Linked DNA regions of Homo sapiens. The protein of the gene in region 1 purifies or fractionates together with the protein of each later gene. This does not show direct contact. Each region holds a gene or a part of one and is shown in the gene's direction. Other genes may lie near its edges.

Region 1 (7,123 bases):
AAACTGCCTTAGGTTCTCTCAGAATTTTTGTCATTCACCATTTGCCACAGATGGTCAGTCCCCAGTGCTTAGGGACAGGACCCTGGTGTGTGTGCGCGAGGGGCCATATGGTCTTGATCTTGACCTGGTGGCTTTTCCTCATTTTGCAGCCCTTATACTTCTCCAAACATTTTTACCTGAATTCCAGTGATTCATCTGTTCCTCACCAAACCAGCTGCAGTATGTACTTCCAATTCCCTAGTTCTGTTCATGGGACCACCCTTTTCCCACTTAGCTTCGACTTTGGCCTCTCCTTCCACAGGACCTGCCGTGGGGAGGGAGGAGCTACGCAGAGGGTTAGGGTGTTTCACGTGGAGGAGAGCAAGAGTCCTTGGCCACCTTAGAATGCAGCGGAAAAGCCAGTGCTGGGATCGGAAGGGGTTTACAGGGGGCGGTAAATGGAGATGAATTTTCATATGAGGAGAAGACAGCAAGCAACACGGTGCCACTACGAACTTAGCAACGCCTTTACCTACGTCAGTATTGCGTCAATTCCACTGTCGTCCGCATGAGCTTGAAAAATCCAGAGAAACACAGCTCATCCCCGCTCCCAGCAGTGTGCTCAGCCCAGAGCCCCGAGTTCCTTCAGACGTGAGCGTAGATGGCCCGCTGCTCATGCCCTCGGCCCACGCTTTCTTTGGCCTGTGTTTCCCTAGTTTGTGGCTTCCCCTACCTGAAATGCTTTCTCTGAGAATCTGCCCTATCCTGAGGACCTTCTTAGACAGCTCCCTCTTCTACAAAGTCATTCTGGATGCCTGTGCCAGAACAAACTTTCTCTGTCCGACCCCTTCTTGGTGTTTCTGGTCATCTTATTGGCACTTGTCATGATGCTGGTGCCACAGTTATGTTCGGCACAGATTGTCTGTCGTGTTAATTATATCTGAGGGAGAAGGTTTTCATCCCATTTGTGCTTCCTGATTAAATAATGATGGGGCTTTTTTGGATTCTAAGCTAACACAGTGTCATCGTAGGAAATTTAGAAACCACAGCCAAGCACAAAGAAGGGCCAACACCATTGGTAGCTCTCCTGTCCAAAGGTGAGCCACTGTTAAATGTTGCCTCTGGCCTTCCGGTCTTTTGTGTGCCTGTATGATGCACGCATTCTTGTGTTACAGAATTTGGGTCAAATAGGCATGTCATGGTGTAGCCGGCTTCCCCTCTAACTTATCATGTATTGCGAGTGTTTTTTCATGTCAGTAATATTTTTAGACAACAGAAAAGACTGCATCATATTCCTGCTCATGTCTAAACCATGACTAACCAGTATCTTAAGTTAACCCCAATTTTTTCCACAGTAAACAGTGCTGTAAATAATATCTTTAAGTCTTTATATAAAGATTATATATAGAATATACACATATAAAATATGTAAAGATTATTGATTATATTAAACCAGTGCAAAATTCTTACTGATCTTTAGAACAAATTCCTGGAAGTGACATCACCTGGGAAAGGCACGTACTTTTACAGGCTTTGAGTGCGTATTTCTACTTTTCTTCTGGAAAGTTTATTTTACCAATTTATAGATGCTGTTTCATATCTATTCATTCATCTGTTTCTTTCTCCCCATCCCTTTCTTCTTTCCTCCTTCTAGCGCTGGGCATTTTCTCATTCTTTCCCAATTAGATGAGTGAAATGGTATCCCATTGTTTTAATTTGTATCTCTTAAGTTATTAGAGAGTTGAAATTTTCGTATTTATTGGCTATTTGTGTATTTATTTTCAACTGCCTGGTTTTGTCCTGAATCCTTTTTCTCTGTTAGTTTTCTTGGGAGTTAATAAGTTATGGGAGCTTCTTGTTCGCAATGTTTCCAATCAGTGCAGATGGTGCTGAGGGTGACTGGCTCTGAGAGTGTTGTGACCTTGCCCCCAGGCATTAAACTTGGGCCCTCCAGGATGACAAGGGTATGAGGAGCCTGTTGGTGGGCTGGCTGATGCACTGGCTGGCCAGGTTCTCCTGGGGACAGCCAGGTGTGCAGTGTTTTGTGTTAGCATATCTCCTCTGGTCCCCAAGATCTTACTGCTGGCTGAGGCCGTTGGCTGCCATGGTGCTGCAGGAACATGCCCTTCCAGCTGTGTGATGTGCGACAGCCGGTGGGATGGAGCTGAGGCCAGGCCTCCCCATTGGGTGGCTGACACTTGCCTCCTGTGGGCCAGTTAAGAATTGCCTGGACATGGTTTGACTCACCTGTGTGTGTCAGCTACACCCTTTTAAGACTTTAGTTTTGTTGTATTTGTGCATGTCTGTGCTTAAACAGGTTCAGTGACTTGATTTGGGAAGTCACATCTTAGGGAGACTTACCAGGGACCCAAGTGCAGAGTCAGCCTGGGGGGCACTGATGGCGTCACTGCCCCTGGAGGCTGCCAATTTCTTGTAGGTCTGTGGCCTGGGAGACTCTGATGGCCTTCCAGGTGGGCACCCCAGCTAGCCAGGGGGTAGAGCCCTTTCCTAGGACCCATGGCATTTCAGATAGAAGGCCCTAATTTTAGGGAAGTGAAGGAATATCAAGGATTGGGAGATGCAGCCATTCAAGGTCTCAGAAGCTCTGGCGTTTGTGAATCACGTCCAGAATTAGTACAAAGGGGAGAGGCATCCTGATCTTTTCCCATAAAGGGGTCTCCATGACCTTTAGAGGCAGCAAGAAGGGAGCCTGGCATGACAGCAGCAGAACCTTCCAGGTGGTTAGATGTGTTCACTTGGCTGCTTACATGTCAAATCCACTTCCTCTGGGCAAATTTCTACTGCACCATGACCCTGGGGATCCATGGGAGGTACATGCTCCTGTGTAGGCCCCAGCCTCTTCCCAACACACACCCTGCGGCCCTGCCCCGAGTCCCCCAGGCTGGACGTTGCCTGCTGTGCAGAGAGGTTGTGTTCTGGAGTATTAATAACATTTACTTAATGCCCCTCCAATATACGTGCATATATGTGCCAGGGACCATCCTAAATACATTGCAATTGCAGATAGTTCACTAATGCCCATCACAATACTGTAACGTGGGCCAGGGACCATCCTAAATGCATTGCAATTGCAGATAGTTCACTAATGCCCATCTCAATACTGTAACGTGGGTTCGTTTATCACACCCACTATACAGATGAAGAGGAAACTGAGTCACAGGGTGCTTCACTGACCTGCCGAAGGTCATAAAGCTCATAAGTGGGGTTGGAACCCAGATAGTCTAGCTCCAAAGTCTAGAGTGGGAACCACCAGTTGTCCGTGGCTGCTGGAAGAGGGCTCACACCCCTCTCAGGATCCAATAAGCCATGAAATACAAACCAGGACACAGGTGCACACATTCCCAGCTCACCGTGCATAGGGTGAGAGACTCCCTCAGCTGTCTGAATCTGGAGCTTGCAAGAAACAGCTGGGAGGGTTAGTCTTGTGTTTTATGGGGAGAAGTTCTATTTTTCTTGCATCACTGTAGAAGGTTCTTGCTGCATGGCCTCACGGGAAGTCCTCTATTCAGTAGCTATTCTTTCAGAGTCTGATCTTATCCATACATTTGTTTACTCATTTACTGAGCAACTACTTTGTGGCAGGCATAGGGCATGTGCTGGGGTAAAACGTACAACATCCCTGCCTTAAAAACACCAGTGAAGGTTCAGTCAGGTAAGTGGGCAGATTTGGGTGAGGTGGAATGTCCTTTGTCTTGATAATCAAGCTATCACCAGATCCACAGCCTCACGTCTCCTTGAAATCGGAGGTTTCCGGTGCAGCCCAGTCATCCCACCACCCCGCAAGACCAGTCAATGTGCTGAGTCTCCCCTGAAATTGCTCTGATAGTCTCTGCATCGGCAACAGTGATGCCTGTGTGAGGTGGTTTGAGATTCTAGGCCAGGTCTCCATAGCTCCCAGAAGCAGGTAGGGTCCAGTCCCCACTTGTCCTTATTTGGGGCTCTTTAATCCTCCCCACATGTTTTCAGAGGCCAGTTCAGAACCCTAGCTGCGTTTCTCAATGGCGTGCTGTGTAAGGAAGAGCTCAGCATTGGAGGTGGGAAGAGCAGTGCCTTGTTTATATTAGGGACACAATCAGTGTTCCTTGGGTCGAATTCAGATGAAAAACAAGTGGGTTTTCCTGACAGCTACTGGTTCAGAAATGGTCCGTTGAGCAAATTTAGAAAATTACTTTTTGAGGAAAGGGACAACTACTTGCACTTTTGAGCTGATGCTGGAACAAGTTAGGACTTTTGGGAACTATTGAGAAGGGATGATTATATTTTGCAGTGTCATAAGGACATGAGATTTGTGGGAACAGGGAGAATGTTATAGCTTAGATATTTGACCATCAAAACCTCATGTTGAAATTTGGTCCCCGATGTTGGAGGTACAGCCTAAACGGAAGTGTTTGGGTCATGGAGGTGGATCCCTCGTGAATGGCTTGGTGCCATCCTCATGGTAATGAGTGAGTTCTTGCTCTATGAGTTCTAGCAAGAGCTGGTTGTTAACAAGAGCCTGGCTCCTCCCCCGTTGCCTCCTCTCTTGCCACATGATCTCTGCACATGCCGGCTCTCCTTCCACCTTCCACTGTGAGTAGAAGCAGCCAGAAGCCCTCCCCAGAAACAGATACTGGCACCATGCTTCTTGTACAGTCTGCAGAACTGTGAGCCAAATAAGCTTCTTTTCTTTACCAATTAAAATGTATTGATACATTGATTTGCCAGTTGGCTCATTGCCGGGGCATCCCTGAGAGGCGTCAGTGGCCTTGCCCTCTGTATCCTGTGAAGGTAAGTGGCACTAGTGCTGTAGCTGAGGGGAAAAGGTGAGGTACTTTGGAAATTAAAAGCCCACATAGCTATTTCTGTTGCTGTTGGCACCTCCTGAGTTTCTCAGTGCTCAGAGATAGGCCAGGAACCTGCTTGTTGCCAGCTCAGCAGCTCCAGGGGTGCTTGTGCCCCTTCCTTGTAGACCAAGCTTGTCCAATCCATGGCCTATGGGCCACATGTGGAACAGGATGGCTTTGAATAACGTGGCCCAACACAAACTCATAAACTTTCCTAAAACTTTATGAGATTTTTTTTTGGTAATTTTTTTTTTAGCTCATCAGCTGTCATTAGTGCATTTTATGTGTGGCCCAAGATGATGATTCTTCCTCCAGTGTAGCCCAGGGTACCCCTGTTGTAGACCAGCAGCCCTACACACTTCCTCTTGCAGAGTTGCCTGGGCACACTCAAGTGCTCCAAGGACCAGCCCACTGGGAATGGGGTGGCTGGACCAGAGCACTTCTGGTACAGCTGTGTCATCAGGTACCTTCGACCCCCTCTTCTCCCTGCTGCTCCCATGTTCCTGGGGTCTAAGGACGAGCTCTCCTGTACCCTGGCCCCTGCCCCACCTCTCCCTTATTCTCCCTTCACATCAGTCACTCATCCCATACTTCATAGACAGTGGCAGAGGAGTCTAAGAGGGGAGGGCTCCACTCCCCAGCCCCAACCAGAGCAGATCTGCTTGGTTTTGAGATACATGTGTAGCATTTCACTTGGGGGAAGAAAAGGCTTTCGCTGATTAAAAAGTTTGAAAACCACTGTAGTGCAGGATGCTTTCAGCCTGGGCACCGAGGCCCTCCCACGTGGCCTACGTGAAACTACTAGTCTATCTGTCACCTCCCACTTCCCCCGCCCGCCCCCCGATTCTGTGACCTCCCAGCAAGCCGATCCTTTCCTACTCTTGCCAGTGGAAGTTCAGCCTTGCCTTCCTGCCTCAGGGCTCAAATCACTGCCTGTTCAGGAAGCTGTCCCAGACCCCCTTAGCCCAACGACAGTGTCTGCTGTGTTCAGTGAGTGTATTACAGTGAAATACACTCATCTTAAGTGTACGGCTTGGTGGTCAAGATGCAGAACATTCCAGCATCCAGGAAGGTTCCTTCATGCCCTTTTCTAGTGAGTACCTACCCCCGAGGTAACCACTATTAGGGTCTCTATCGCCAGACCAGTTTTTTGTTTTTATTTTTATTTTTTTTACTTTTGGTTAAAAAAATAGTTGTTTTTTTTTTTGTTATACTTTAAGTTTTAGGGTACTTGTGCACAACATGCAGGTTTGTTACATAGGTATACATGTGCCATGTTGGTGTGCTGCACCCATTAACTCATCATTTAACATTAGGTATATCTCCTAATGCTATCCCTACTCCCTCCCCACACCCCACAACAGGCCCCAGTATGTGATGTTCCCCTTCCTGTGTCCATGTGTTCTCATTGTTCAATTCCCACCTATGAGTGAGAACATGCAGTGTTTGGTTTTTTGTCCTTTCGATAGTTTGCTGACACTGATGGTTTCCAGCTTCATCCATGTCCCTACAAAGGACACGAACTCATCATTTTTTATGGCTGCATAGTATTCCGTGGTGTATATGTGCCACATTTTCCAGTCTATCATTGTTGGACATTTAGGTTGGTTCCAAGTCTTTGCTATTGTGAACAGTGCCGCAGTAAACATACGTGTGCATGTGTCTTTATAGCAGCATGATTTATAATCCTTTGGGTATATACCCAGTAATGGGATGGCTGGGTCAAATGGTATTTCTAGTTCTAGATCCCTGAGGAATCGCCACACTGACTTCCACAATGGTTGAATTAGTTTACAGTCCCACCAACAGTGTAAAAGTGTTCCTATTTCTCCATATCCTCTCCAGCACCTGTTGTTTCCTGACTTTTTAATGATCACCATTCTAACTGGTGTGAGATGGTATCTCATTGTGGTTTTGATTTGCATTTCTCTGATGGCCAGTGATGATGAACATTTTTTCATGTGTCTTTTGGCTGCATAAATGTCTTCTTTTGAAAAGTGTCTGTTCATATCCTTCACCCACTTGTTGATGGGGTTGTTTTTTTCTTGTAAATTTGTTTGTGTTCTTTGTAGATTCTGGATATTAGCCCTTTGTCAGATGAGTAGATTGCAAAAATTTTCTCCCATTCTGTAGGTTACCTGTTCACTCTGATGGTGTTTCTTTTGCTGTGCAGAAGTTCTTTAGTTTAATTAGATCCCATTTGCGAATTTTGGCTTTTGTTGCCATTGCTTTTTGTGTTTTAGACATGAAGTCCTTGCCCATGCCTATGTCCTGAATGGTATTGCCTAGGTTTTCTTCCA
Region 2 (5,097 bases), on another chromosome or scaffold:
CAGGGTCCAGGTCGCATTGTGTGACCTCAGACAGGTCACGCTGCTTCTCTCTGCCTCAGCTTCCTGAGCAGAAAGGCAGTAACTGTAATGCTTATCCTAGAAGTAATCCCCAGTAAACGTTAGTGATTTCCTTTTTCTCTCTACAACATGCTGGGGGCCCAGGCAGGCTCCCCCAAGGGCACCTCCCTCTTGGACAAGGGTCCCTCTAGACGCAGGCCTGGCAGGTGGCTGGCATGGCTGTGGCCTGCCTTCCGATGCAAGGATCAGCACTGAGCGAAGCACTGTTCCTGGGGAGGGGAGTCCAGAGCTGACCCTTAGGCTGGCCCACCCCTTGCAGGCACAGGAGGGGAGTGCCAAGGCTGAGCGGCCAGGCCTCCAGAACATGGAGCTGGCGCCTGTGCAGCGCAAGATCGAGGCTCGCTCGGCAGAGGACTCCTTCACAGGCTTCGTCCGGACCCTGTACTTTGCTGACACCTACCTGAAGGACAGTGAGTGGCCAGCCTGGGGTTGGGGGGCAGGGGGTAGTGGGCAGCAGACACCCCCTGACCTGGGGGCATGCCGGGGGCTGCTGCCTGCCTGGCTGGTAGGAGCTAAGAGGTTTCCCCTTGTGAGCAGGGGCAGACTGCAGCCCCTGCCTGCTTACTCCCCTCCCCTGCCTCAGCCTCTGAGTCAGCTTCCCTTGGCTTTATATCCAGGCCGTAGCACCCTTTAGAAGCATGGCCTCAGACCCATCACTTAGCCTTTCAGGGCCTCAGCTTGCTTCTCTGTAAATGAGGAAGTGACAGCTTCCTCCTAGAGCAGCTGTGACGATCGGGGACAGCAGAGCCTGCTGGTCTCCAGATGACGTGTCTCTCCCTGGCTGGTTCTCCCCTGCTGTATCACAGCAAGGGCTGAGCTGACCTGGGATTGGGGTCTTCTATGTTGGGGCCTGTGTGGTTGTCAGAGAGCCTTCCAGCCTCTCCCAGGAGGGAAAACCTGGGAGTAAACCCTGGTTGCCCAGCTCCACCCGACTCCCACGCTAAGGGTCAGACACCCAAACATGGCTTCTCGGCAGGCTCCCGGCACTGCCCCTCGCTGTGGGCTGGCACCAATGGGGGCACCATCTATGCCTTCTCCCTGCGTGTGCCTCCCGCCGAGCGGAGAATGGATGAGCCTGTGCGGGCAGAGCAGGGTGAGTGCTGGGCAGGGAGAGCAGAGGGTGCTCGGGCTGCCTGGGCTGGGTCCAGGGAGTGGCTCCAGCCCTGCCACCCCCTCACCAGCCCCAACACCCACCTCCTCCCCCTAGCCAAGGAGATCCAGCTGATGCACCGGGCGCCGGTGGTGGGCATCCTGGTGCTCGACGGACACAGCGTACCCCTTCCCGAGCCCCTCGAAGTGGCCCATGATCTGTCGAAGAGCCCTGACATGCAGGGAAGCCACCAGCTGCTCGTCGTATCAGAGGAGCAGTTCAAGGTGCCACACGGGCAGCGGCGGGTCTCCCTGGGACTCCCCGGGACATCCAGGAGGCTCGGACCTTGGGCAAAAATGATGGCTGGGACTCAGTCTTGTTTGCAGTTGGTGTCTGAGGGGCTGCAGAAGTACAGGAAATAAGTGAGGGGGGAGTCTCGTGTGAGGACACTGAGGCAGGACAGGGGGCCAGGCGCGGTGACTCATGCCTGTAATGCCAGCACTTTGGGAGGCCAGATCACAAGGGCAGGAGTTCGAGATCAGCCTGGCCAATATGGTGAAACCCTGACTACTAAAAATACAAAAAAAAATAGCCCGGCATGGGCCAGGCGCGGTGGCTCATGCCTGTAATCCCAGCACTTTGGGAGGCCGAGGCGGGCAGATCACAAGGTCAGGAGATCGAGACCATCCTGGCTAACACGGTGAAACCCCGTCTCTACAAACAAATGCAAAAAAATTAGTTAGGCGTGGTGGCGGGCACCTGTAGTCCCAGCTACTCAGGAGGCTGAGGCAGGAGAATGGCGTGAACCCAGGAGGCGGAGCTTGCAGTGAGCCGAGATTGTGCCACTGCCCTCCAGCCTGGGCGACAGAGCGAGATTCCGTCTCAAAAAAAAAAAAAAAAACCAGCATGGTGGTGGACGCCTGTAATCCCAGCTCTACTCGGGAGGCTGAGGCAGAAGAATTGCCTGAGGCGGAGGTTGCAGTGAGCCGAGATCACACCACTGTACTCCAGCCTGGGCGACAGAGCAAGACTCCATCTCGGAGGAAAAAAAAAAAAATCCAGATAGGGAAGTCGGTGACCTCGGCATCCTCCCAGGCCATGTCTGTGCATCTGAGAGCCAAGGGTTTGTCAGGACACCGGGAGGCATGTGGGGAGGGGAGGGCCCAGCAGCAGCAGCACAGGGCAGGAGAACTGGTTTGGCCATGGGCATGAACAACCACCCCACGCCCCCAGGTGTTCACGCTGCCCAAGGTGAGTGCCAAGCTGAAGTTGAAGCTGACGGCCCTGGAGGGCTCAAGAGTGCGGCGGGTCAGCGTGGCCCACTTCGGCAGTCGTCGAGCCGAGGACTACGGGGAGCACCACCTGGCAGTCCTTACCAACCTGGGCGACATCCAGGTGGTCTCGCTGCCCCTGCTCAAGCCCCAGGTGCGCTACAGCTGCATCCGCCGGGAGGACGTCAGTGGCATCGCCTCCTGCGTCTTCACCAAATATGGCCAAGGTGTTTGAGCCGGGCTGGGTGGGTGTCGGGGCCCCGGGCACTGCACGGACGGGAAGGGTGGCCAGGGGTGTTGTGGCCACGGCCAGACTGGATGGGCCTTAAGCGGAGAACTGCGAGGGAGCACTAGCCCCTACTCCCCCAGGTGGGGAGGCAGCCTTGGCAGCCGCCAGGCCAGGCCGCTAGCATTGCCCCCACTCCCCAGGCTTCTACCTGATCTCACCCTCGGAGTTTGAGCGCTTCTCTCTCTCCACCAAGTGGCTGGTGGAGCCCCGGTGTCTGGTGGATTCAGCAGAAACCAAGAACCACCGCCCTGGTAACGGTGCGGGCCCCAAGAAGGCCCCGAGCCGAGCCAGGTGAGTGAAAGGGCCAGAGGCCTCTCCCGCCCCTCCCGCCCCTCCCTGCCCTCTCTGAGATACCGAGGCTCCCACTGCTGCCTGGCTGGAGGCACCTCCCCACGAGCTCAGCCCACCCTCCCAGGCTCCGGCTCTCCTTGCCTCTTTGCGTGCCCCTTGCCCCTGTGCAAGCTGGCAGTCCAGGGCAGGACTCAGTTTACCTCCCAGGCTCTCCGGCTCAGGACAGGCTGCGCCATTGACTTGTTCTTCATGGGACCAGGGCTCTCAGAGCCGGGCAGGGAGCCCGGGGGCCCTGGTCCTCACTGTCTCTTCCCCCACAGGAACTCAGGGACTCAGAGTGATGGCGAGGGTAAGACAGGCCTCCTGGGCTCATGCACACCTGGGCCACACCCGGCCCAGACCTGGGGCTGGACGGGAGGGAAGGGTCCCGAGTGAGCAGGTAGTGTTTGGGCTGGGAATAGAGACGGCATTCCTTCCAGCCCTGGGCCCTGGGCTTCCACATCCTGACCTCAGTAAGGAGAGAGAGAGCCAGGCCGAGGAGGGCCCAGGCGGGGCGCCCTGACCCGGCCTCTACCTTCCAGAGAAGCAGCCCGGCCTGGTGATGGAGCGCGCTCTGCTCAGTGATGAGAGTGAGTTGGGTGGGAGAGGGTGGGGCTGGCAGGAGGGGTGGGGAAGGGGGGTCAGGGTCAAGGGAGGCTGGGCAGGCCACTGCCCTGAGGCGGGGTACAGATCCATGGGCACCCACGGAGAAAGGGGGTGGAAGGGCTGTGGCTAGCCGCCCCAAGGGCCTCAGTGGGCCTCTGTTCCCACCCGGCCTGCAGGAGTCCTGAAGGAAATCCAGAGCACACTGGAGGGAGACCGCGGGTGAGGCACCGCCCAGGCCAGCTGGGGTGGGCCCGAGGCTCTGCCAGAGGGCTCAGGGGAGCGCTGAGAGTGGAGGTCCCTGAGGCCATGACTCCCCTGTCTTTGCCTGTGCAGGAGCGGCAACTGGCGTTCACATCGAGCCGCCGTGGGGTGCAGCCTCAGCAATGGCGGAGGTGGGGGCTCTGGGCTTGAGTGCAGCTGCCAACCGTGCTGGGAAGGGCTGGGAGGAAGAGCCCCGGCCCCACTCCCCTGGGTCCCACGGGGCTGACACGTGCCCTGATGACCAGGAAAGCACCATGTCTGGGCTCAGCGTGGGCGGCTGGGGCACCCCGTCCTGCCCAGGGTGATCTTGAGCTGTCCCTCTGTGTCCTTCAGCAGAGTGAGTGGCTGAGCGTCCAGGCTGCGCGATGAGCACACACTACTACTGATGGCCTTTCGGGGGTCCCTGCCCCAACCGGAGAGGCCGGTGCACAGGGCCCCGCCAGGGGCTGGGGGCATCCCGGCTTCCACAATGCAGCTGCTCTGGGCCTCGGGAGAGGAGAGACCCCAGTCCCCTGGGCTGCCCTTCCCGGGCCTCGTCTGTCTGGGTCCTTTGGTCAATGTTGCACAGTTTTTATTGCTCCCATCCCTTTTTGTAGTGGGCTGGGTTTTAAGTTATAAATGTTAACTGCCTCTGGGTGAAAAAGTTTTTAATAAACACCTATTACCTCTTGACTGGTCCACTACTTTAATATTTTAATTGTGTAGAAATTTTCCATGTGAATGGAAAGTGGGAGCCGGTACCCTGCCTGTCCCCCGAGGCTCCAGCCCTGGCCTGGGCCGGTGTCAGGAGAATCCACTTGGGGAGCCGTGTGAATCAAACTGCTTCGTTTTGTCTGAGCCCGGCGGTGCCTTCCCTCTGTGGGAACACATGGCAAGCACGAACCATCTTGAGTCTGCCTGACTTTTTCCCTGGGTCCTGGCCGCCCCTGGCTGGCCTTTCCCTACTGTCAGAAGAAGGACACCCACAATATCTCAGACCTGATGGCTTCCTCCAGACACCAGGGAGGACTGTGGGGTGCTGCTGAAGCGGGGCTGGTACCCAAGGAGAAAGGCCTTCCCCAGGGGAGGGGCTGGGTTATTTAGATTGGACATGGGCTGGATCTTTATTGACTCGTCTTCGTTGAGCACCTACTGTATGGCCAGTGCGTGGGGTTCTCCGGTGTCTGAGACAA
Region 3 (7,123 bases), on another chromosome or scaffold:
GAGGTGACTTCTGTGTGTTTTGAAACTGAGTTGATGGGGCTCAGAAATGGACTGGACGTGGGGTATGAGGGAAGCAGATGCTGGACAGTGCATGTAACCTCCTTTCCTCGTTTGTAAAATGGGAAGGCTGTGGGGATTTGCGATGCAGTGTCCCGTCTCTGGACCCTGGTTGTAGCGAGGGACTGGCTAGACAAGGTCAGGTGCAGCAAGGGCGTGGTATTATTGGTGGGAGAGAGAAGCCCCAGCCAAATCGCCAACTCTGTCCTTAGGTGGGCTTACTGTCCCAAGGGCCCAGATGAGAGACTGAAGCTTGGAGAGTACTGAGTCTTGGAGAGTACTGTGACTTGCCCAAGGCCAGACAGCTAGGCCGTGACCAAACCAGCTGCCCAGAGGGCTCAGTCCCCACCTGGATGGGCAGAGGCAGGCAGGGAGGGAGGTTCGCGTTACAGGCTGGGAACTGGGGTTTCTTACAAATGTGCATCTTCCTGAGGCAGTGGGTCAGGAATTACCAGTGGTAAAAGTGAAAAATAAATAACAACAACAAGATAAAAGGAGTTACCAGTGGCCCACGTGGGTGTCCTGCACTGGTGTTCAGGATGGGGCTGGAGCTCAGCTGTGCAGGCTTCCCAGGGAGGGCACAGCCAGGCCAAAGACAGGAGACTGGTGCAGAAAGGGTGTGCTGTGAAAGGGGCAGGGGAGCGGGTGGGGAGCTGTTTCATCGACACTCTGGGCACACAGACCCCCTTAACACCATCTCCGCCCCTGATGGTTATGGGAGTCATGTTGCCCAGCTGTTGGCAGGTGGGGAGGTGGGAGGATGCCTTCGGGGTCCAGGCAGAAAGCTACCCCTCTCTGGGCCTCTGTCTCCCTGTGTCTGGGAGGAGTCAAAAGCCTCTGCCTAGCTGATCCTGGATGTTGTCCCTTGACCTCTGACCTCCACTCAGGCCTGTGTTTGGGGAGTGTCATGGTCATCTTGCGGGACTCCTCCGCAAGCTTTAGTCTGTGCCTCTAAAAATGGGGTGCAGAGCCCTTCATGGAGCAGGTGGGGCCTCATCAGTGCCTGCACCTCTGTGAGCCTTGCTTCACCTGTTTGTTGCTGGAGCCTCCATGCAGTGGGGCCCACATGAGCCTGTGTGCATTGAGGGGCACAGGGGCTTGGCAAAGGGCGGGCCTCTGTGGACTATGCACGCGGTACAGTCATGGTGGAGGCTAGGGGTTTAGCCACCTCCCCACCAACTGGAGGCATGATAACCCATTTCACAGTTGAGGACGCTGAGGCACAGAGCAAGTAGACCTGCCTCCTACCCCCAGTGTGTCAGCTGCAGACCCTGGAGGCTGCCTTGGGGTGGGCCTCAGGGTGGGCCATGGCAGAGGTGCCTGGGAGTGCTTACCCCCAGCAGCCCTCCCCTCCTTGCAGACTGTGGAGCATGGCTTCCCCAATCAGCCCAGCGCCCTGGCCTTCGACCCGGAACTTCGCATCATGGCCATCGGCACCAGGTCTGGGGCTGTCAAGATGTATCCTTTGCAGGACAGGTGTTCAGGGTCTGTTCAGGACCACCTGCCTGTAGTTCCCTGTGCTCTGGGGTCCCAGTCTTGGCAGTGTCCAGCTCGAGAGGAGGACAGAGGTGCTCTGATGGGCAGTAGTGGGGGCTTCTGCGGAGGTTGGCGTGGCTTCTGTACCTGAGACAACTGTGCAGAGATGATGGGGTCCTTTTGCTGAGAGACGGGTGGTGGGGGGTCAGTTTGCAGTAGCACAGCTGTCCCTTGCTACGTGTCAGCCAGCCAGTTACCTAGGCGACCCTGCCATCGTCCCAGCAACTCTGGGGAGGCCAGGCAGAAGGCTGGGCTATGATACCCATGGAGGGTGGCAGGTGGGCTGGGGGCCCTGGTGAGCTGATGCACACATGTGTGAATGTGAAGACACATGTGTTCAGCAAAGGGGCCTGGGGGCAGTGCCAGGCTCGGCATGGTGAGCACAGCACGGCCCCCACCTGGATACTGGCTGCTGCACAATGGGCTGTGTGAGCCACACAAAGCGGGCATTTTCCCTGCAGGCCTGGGGTGGGGGTGGGGGCAGGCCGGCAGCTCAGTGTCTCCTTGCCAGCCCTGGAGAATCCCACCCCAACTGCTCTTGGGGAAGCCGAGGTGCCAGGGTCTGGCTGATGGCGGCTTGGTGAGGGGTGCTGACCCCTACCCCTCCTGTGTGGCCTTCTGGGTTTCAGTATCCTGGTTTCAGACATCAGTTCCCAGAAAATGTGTCAGTGCTGGGAAAGGGGAGGGTGTGGGATGGGGGTCTCCTCACCCCAGGACTGGGGGCACTGATCAGGCAGGGATGGGACTCTGAGCCTGTGGTTTGTGAGCTCTTTGCCTACTCTGGGGAGTGTGGATGGGCTGAGATGTCCCCTTCTCTCCCATGGCCCCAGCGGCCTCTGTTGGTGAGTGTGGCAGTGCTCTGGGCCCCACATGCTCCGCTGCCTGGCCTGCTGCTCCCACTCCTGTGGGTGCTGCGCTGCGTGCGCACATGTGTCCCTGCAGCCTTCAGGTGTCCCTCCTGTGTTGGGGTCTCCAGTGCACTTGTCCTCAGGCTCAAAAAGAACCTGAAGTGCAGATGAGGAGACTGAGCCTCAGAAAGGAGGCTGGAGCCCGGGGTCCTCTTCCCTTTTTCCCCTGACTGCCACTGCCTGGAGCCCCTTGGGTTGGGAAACTGAGGCTGGAGAGGGCCAGCCCTGGTCACTAGAAGCTGCCCCTCCCCCTGCCAGGCCAGCCCCATCTCCTTGACGACCCTGGTTCCCGCCCAGCTGCTCCTGTCCCCTCTTTTGTCCCTTCTTCGGAGTTTCTCGCCAGGCTCCTGTAGGGAATCTGAGCTCAAGCTCCAGGCAACGGCTCCTGTGTTGTCACCGGGGCAACGTTGCTGACTCCTCCCTGCACCCTCTGTCATGGGGCCCCCTCAGGCCCTGCTGTCCACCATCAGCCCTGGAGTTGCCGGGACTCAGGCACTGACACTGGGCACTTCAAGCAGGTCATCCACCCCCTCCAAGTCTGTGTGCTCATCTGTGAAATGGGCAGGCTGGAGTCTCTCCTCCCTCATGATGGCAGTTGTTGGCTGCCTGCTTTGGAGGGAGGTGGGTTTTTTTTGTTTTGTTTTGTTTTTTTGAGATGGAGTCTTGCTCTTTGTTGCCCAGGCTGGAGTGCAGTCGCACAGTTTTGGCTCACTGCAACCTTTGCCTCCCGGGTTCAAGCAGTTCTCTGCCTCAGCCTCCCAAATAGCTGGGATTACAGGTGCCTGCCAGCATGCCCGGCTAATTTTTGCGTTTTTAGTAGAGACGAGGTTTCACCATCTTGGCCAGGCTGGTCCTCAACTCCTGACCTTGTGATCTACCTGCCTCGGCCTCCCAAAGTGCTGGGATTACAGGAGCGAGCCACCGTGCCCAGAGGAGGTGGGTTTTCTTACCCATGGCTGAAGTTTGGCCTGAAGCTGTGGGAAAAGGCAGCCTGGACTCTTCTGCCCCCTGGCTTTCTTGTCCAGGCCTGGCCTTGCACCTCTGGCCTGCCTGATCCCATCCGGCAAGGCGCAGCTCCCAGAACCCATAGACACACGGAGCTGAAGTGGAGCGGAGCCCCATCCTCTCACCAGGCTGAGGCCAAGCCTGCTGGGTGTGTTTATTCTCACTTGATCTGCAACAGTCCTGTAAAGTGGGAGTCACTGGCCCAATTTACGGGAAGTGAAGGTCCTATAGCAGCACCTGACTTGCAGGAGTGAGTGGAGCCTGCACACTGATCTTGGGGATACTGTAGGGGTGCAGAGTGGGAGCTTTAGGGAGGGGGCCTCCGTTCTTCAGGGAGGACTCCTGGATGGTCAGGCCCATGCCGGGGCCCACTGGAATAGTCCGGGTCAAGGAGGAGCCTTGGGTGTCTTCCTCACTGTGGTTTGCTGGTCTATGCCTATTTCCACCTTGACCTGCCACCCTCAGCTATGGTGCACCTGGCGTGGAGTTCACAGGCCTGCACCGGGATGCAGCCACTGTCACACAGATGCACTTCTTGACCGGCCAGGTGAGCCTCTGCTTCCCACTAGCCAGCTCCCTGTGGCCCCCATATCTACTCATCCCCCTAGGCCAGCCTAGTTTTCATCTCTGCTCACACACCAGGGCCGCCTCCTGTCCCTGCTTGATGACAGCAGTCTGCATCTCTGGGAGATTGTCCACCATAATGGCTGTGCCCACCTGGAAGAAGCACTCAGTTTCCAGCTGCCCAGCCGGCCCGGCTTTGATGGTGCCAGGTACTGGAGAACTTGGCTGGGGCCAGCCACCGGGCAGGGAGGATCTGGGGGAGGCTGTGGGAACCTGCTGTGCAAAGGCAGCATGGAGATGGGCAGCGGTTCAGGGCGGGATGCCTTGAGCTGGGCCTGGGTCCCAGGCTGCAGCTGTTGGACCCTGCTTTACTGAGGTATACTCTGAACTTTTCAGGTTAAATGGGAGGTTTGGGTTGAGTCCGACGTGAGCAGGTAATTAACATTGTGAGCAGCAGGAGGTACATGCATTATATGCCAAACTTCTAGGACCTGAGGCCTGGCACTACACTTACTGCAATGATGGGGGTGTCTAGGGGTTTGGGGCAGGGCCTAAGCCAGTTAGTAACAGGAAGGGTCCCCTGGCCTCTTCAGTTGTGGGTGGGAGACAGGCCTTTCTGTGCATAGGCAGGGTTGAGGGCAAGGAGGGTCCCATGGGCTGTGCTTGGTAAGGCGCTGGCAGCATGCCCCAGCTGAGTGAGAGTGTGGGGCATCTCTCTCCCCAGCCCTGCCTGAAATAGCTGGAAAAGGGGAGTACCAACCCAGGGATGGATTCCTGATGCCTCCCAGCTTCTGCAGATGGGGGTATCTGGGGCCCTCCTGCGAAGTCAGGAGATGTCTGAGCGCTGGCAGCGGGATTCCTAGGAGGGGCTCAGCGGGGAGCTCCTGGTCCTGGCTTGGGCAGTGCCCTGGTTCCTGCTGTCCTCTCCTGGTGGGTGGGAGGAGCTGGGAGCCCAGTCTGCAAGACCTAGGGACCCTATTTTTATCCATCTCCCTGCTGACATCCTGATGAATAATTGAGCGGGCTGATGATGATGCATGTCTTCCTGGGGTGGCTCTGTAAGTAGGCCCTGGTGAGTGCTGTGGGGCCAGTGATGAGTTATCAGCAGTGGCCCAGCCCCTCACACCCCACCTGAGCAGGTGGATGGGCTTGTACCCTCACTCCCTTCCCCTTGTTCCCTGCAGTGCTCCGCTCAGCCTTACCCGAGTCACAGTGGTCCTGCTGGTGGCTGCCAGCGACATAGCAGCCCTGGGCACTGAGGGCAGCAGTGTCTTCTTCCTGGATGTTACCACCCTGACCCTGCTCGAGGGGCAGACGCTTGCCCCAGGCGAGGTTCTGCGCAGGTAAGAGGCCGGTGGGCTTCCCAGCACCCACTGTGTGCCCGGGAAGTTCTGCTGGCTCACCTGCCTTCCTCCACAGCGTGCCAGACGACTACCGCTGTGGGAAGGCACTGGGCCCCGTGGAGTCACTCCAGGGACACCTGCGGGACCCCACAAAGATTCTCATTGGCTACAGCCGGGGCCTGCTGGTCATCTGGAACCAGGCCTCGCAGTGTGTGGACCACATCTTCCTGGGGAACCAGGTATGTAGGTGAGGCCTGTGTCCCCTCAGCCTGGGCCCCTTGTGCATGCCCACCATGGCTCATGCCTGCCTGCCTGCCTGCCCCTGCCTGCCCGCAGCAGCTGGAGAGCCTATGCTGGGGGCGTGATAGCAGCACTGTGGTCAGCTCACACAGCGATGGCAGCTATGCTGTCTGGTCTGTGGATGCCGGCAGCTTCCCAACGCTGCAGCCCACGGTAGCCACCACACCTTACGGTGAGTGCTGGGGACACCTTAGCCAGAGGGTGGTGATGGGAGGGGGCACCACTGAGCCAAGCCAAACTGGCTGAGGAGGGACTTCCCCGAGGGGGTGGTCTGGGGGCAGTGTGTCTCCCGCCGACTTCCCGGGGAGGCAGGAGGCAGCTGTAAGGTAGAGAGCAGTGGAGGGCAGAGCAGGAATGGCAGAATTGCTAAGAACCACCAGTGAGTCTGGTCTGACGCTGTCCCACCCCTCAGGCCCCTTTCCCTGCAAGGCCATTAACAAGATTCTGTGGCGGAACTGTGAATCTGGGTAGGTCGAGGGAGTGGGTGTCCGATGTGAGTTGGGTCTGGCTAGGGGGCTGGAAGGGTGGGCTCTCCCTAGGTTGTGCAGTATGTGCTCTGGACCCAAGTGGTTCATGGCTCGCACACCTCCCTCTGCACATAGGGGCCACTTTATCATCTTCAGCGGTGGCATGCCCCGTGCCAGCTATGGTGACCGCCACTGTGTAAGTGTGCTTCGAGCCGAGACATTGGTGACGCTGGACTTCACTTCCCGCATCATCGACTTCTTCACAGTGCACAGCACACGGCCCGAGGATGGTGCGTGCCCTGCCGTACCCTACCCTTTCCCAGCCCCACCTGGTGCCCTCTGCCACCTATGGCTGTGCTCACCCCATACTCCCTCCGTCCCACAGAATTTGATGACCCCCAGGCCCTGGCTGTGCTGCTGGAAGAGGAGCTGGTGGTGCTGGACCTGCAGACTCCTGGCTGGCCAGCTGTGCCTGCCCCATACCTGGCCCCGCTGCACTCCTCTGCAATCACTTGCTCGGCCCACGTGGCCAGTGTCCCCGCCAAGCTGTGGGCCCGCATTGTGAGCGCTGGCGAGCAGCAGAGCCCCCAGCCTGTCTCCAGTGCCTTGGTGTGTGCGGCGATCAGGGGGGTCTTACAGGGTGGAGTCTTGAGGAGGGGGAGAGTTTCAGTTCTAAGCCCGGAGGTCAGAATGTGCCATACTCGGGGTGAGAGGGAGAAGATGTTCGTCCTAACCTTGTGCATACATCTCTGCCACCCCCTCCCAGAGCTGGCCCATCACTGGGGGCCGAAACCTGGCCCAGGAGCCGTCACAGCGAGGGCTGCTGCTGACGGGGTAGGTGTGCGTGCTTATGTGGGTGAGTGGGCCCCTTGCTGTTGGGGGAGAGCCCATCCTGGGCCTGGTGGGTGCAGAGGTGCCAGGAGACTCAGGCCTGGCCCCTGGT

What was found.
Region 2: the proteins of PARD6G (region 1) and LLGL2 purify together in Homo sapiens (affinity purification with mass spectrometry; 5 studies listed by BioGRID and IntAct, with this or other methods). This does not show direct contact.
Region 3: the proteins of PARD6G (region 1) and LLGL1 purify together in Homo sapiens (co-immunoprecipitation; 2 studies listed by BioGRID and IntAct, with this or other methods). This does not show direct contact.

Annotation. Positions count from the first base shown.
Region 1 is NC_000018.10:80,237,399-80,244,521, reverse strand, and holds part of PARD6G (partitioning defective 6 homolog gamma), read left to right. Parts: intron 1-7,123. UniProt on the Homo sapiens protein: Adapter protein involved in asymmetrical cell division and cell polarization processes. May play a role in the formation of epithelial tight junctions. The PARD6-PARD3 complex links GTP-bound Rho small GTPases to atypical protein kinase C proteins.
Region 2 is NC_000017.11:75,570,613-75,575,709, forward strand, and holds the end of LLGL2 (LLGL scribble cell polarity complex component 2), read left to right. Parts: intron 1-337; coding exon 338-488; intron 489-1,054; coding exon 1,055-1,171; intron 1,172-1,285; coding exon 1,286-1,452; intron 1,453-2,401; coding exon 2,402-2,666; intron 2,667-2,868; coding exon 2,869-3,019; intron 3,020-3,339; coding exon 3,340-3,368; intron 3,369-3,498; coding exon of another isoform or gene 3,499-3,581; exon of another isoform or gene 3,582-3,594; intron 3,595-3,600; coding exon 3,601-3,648; intron 3,649-3,840; coding exon 3,841-3,883; intron 3,884-3,997; coding exon 3,998-4,056; intron 4,057-4,258; coding exon 4,259-4,266; coding exon of another isoform or gene 4,267-4,294; 3' UTR 4,295-4,597; downstream 4,598-5,097. UniProt on the Homo sapiens protein: Part of a complex with GPSM2/LGN, PRKCI/aPKC and PARD6B/Par-6, which may ensure the correct organization and orientation of bipolar spindles for normal cell division.
Region 3 is NC_000017.11:18,228,524-18,235,646, forward strand, and holds part of LLGL1 (lethal(2) giant larvae protein homolog 1), read left to right. Parts: intron 1-1,417; coding exon 1,418-1,515; intron 1,516-3,971; coding exon 3,972-4,053; intron 4,054-4,148; coding exon 4,149-4,279; intron 4,280-5,254; coding exon 5,255-5,413; intron 5,414-5,489; coding exon 5,490-5,652; intron 5,653-5,749; coding exon 5,750-5,885; intron 5,886-6,125; coding exon 6,126-6,180; intron 6,181-6,315; coding exon 6,316-6,470; intron 6,471-6,565; coding exon 6,566-6,789; intron 6,790-6,946; coding exon 6,947-7,014; intron 7,015-7,123. UniProt on the Homo sapiens protein: Cortical cytoskeleton protein found in a complex involved in maintaining cell polarity and epithelial integrity. Involved in the regulation of mitotic spindle orientation, proliferation, differentiation and tissue organization of neuroepithelial cells.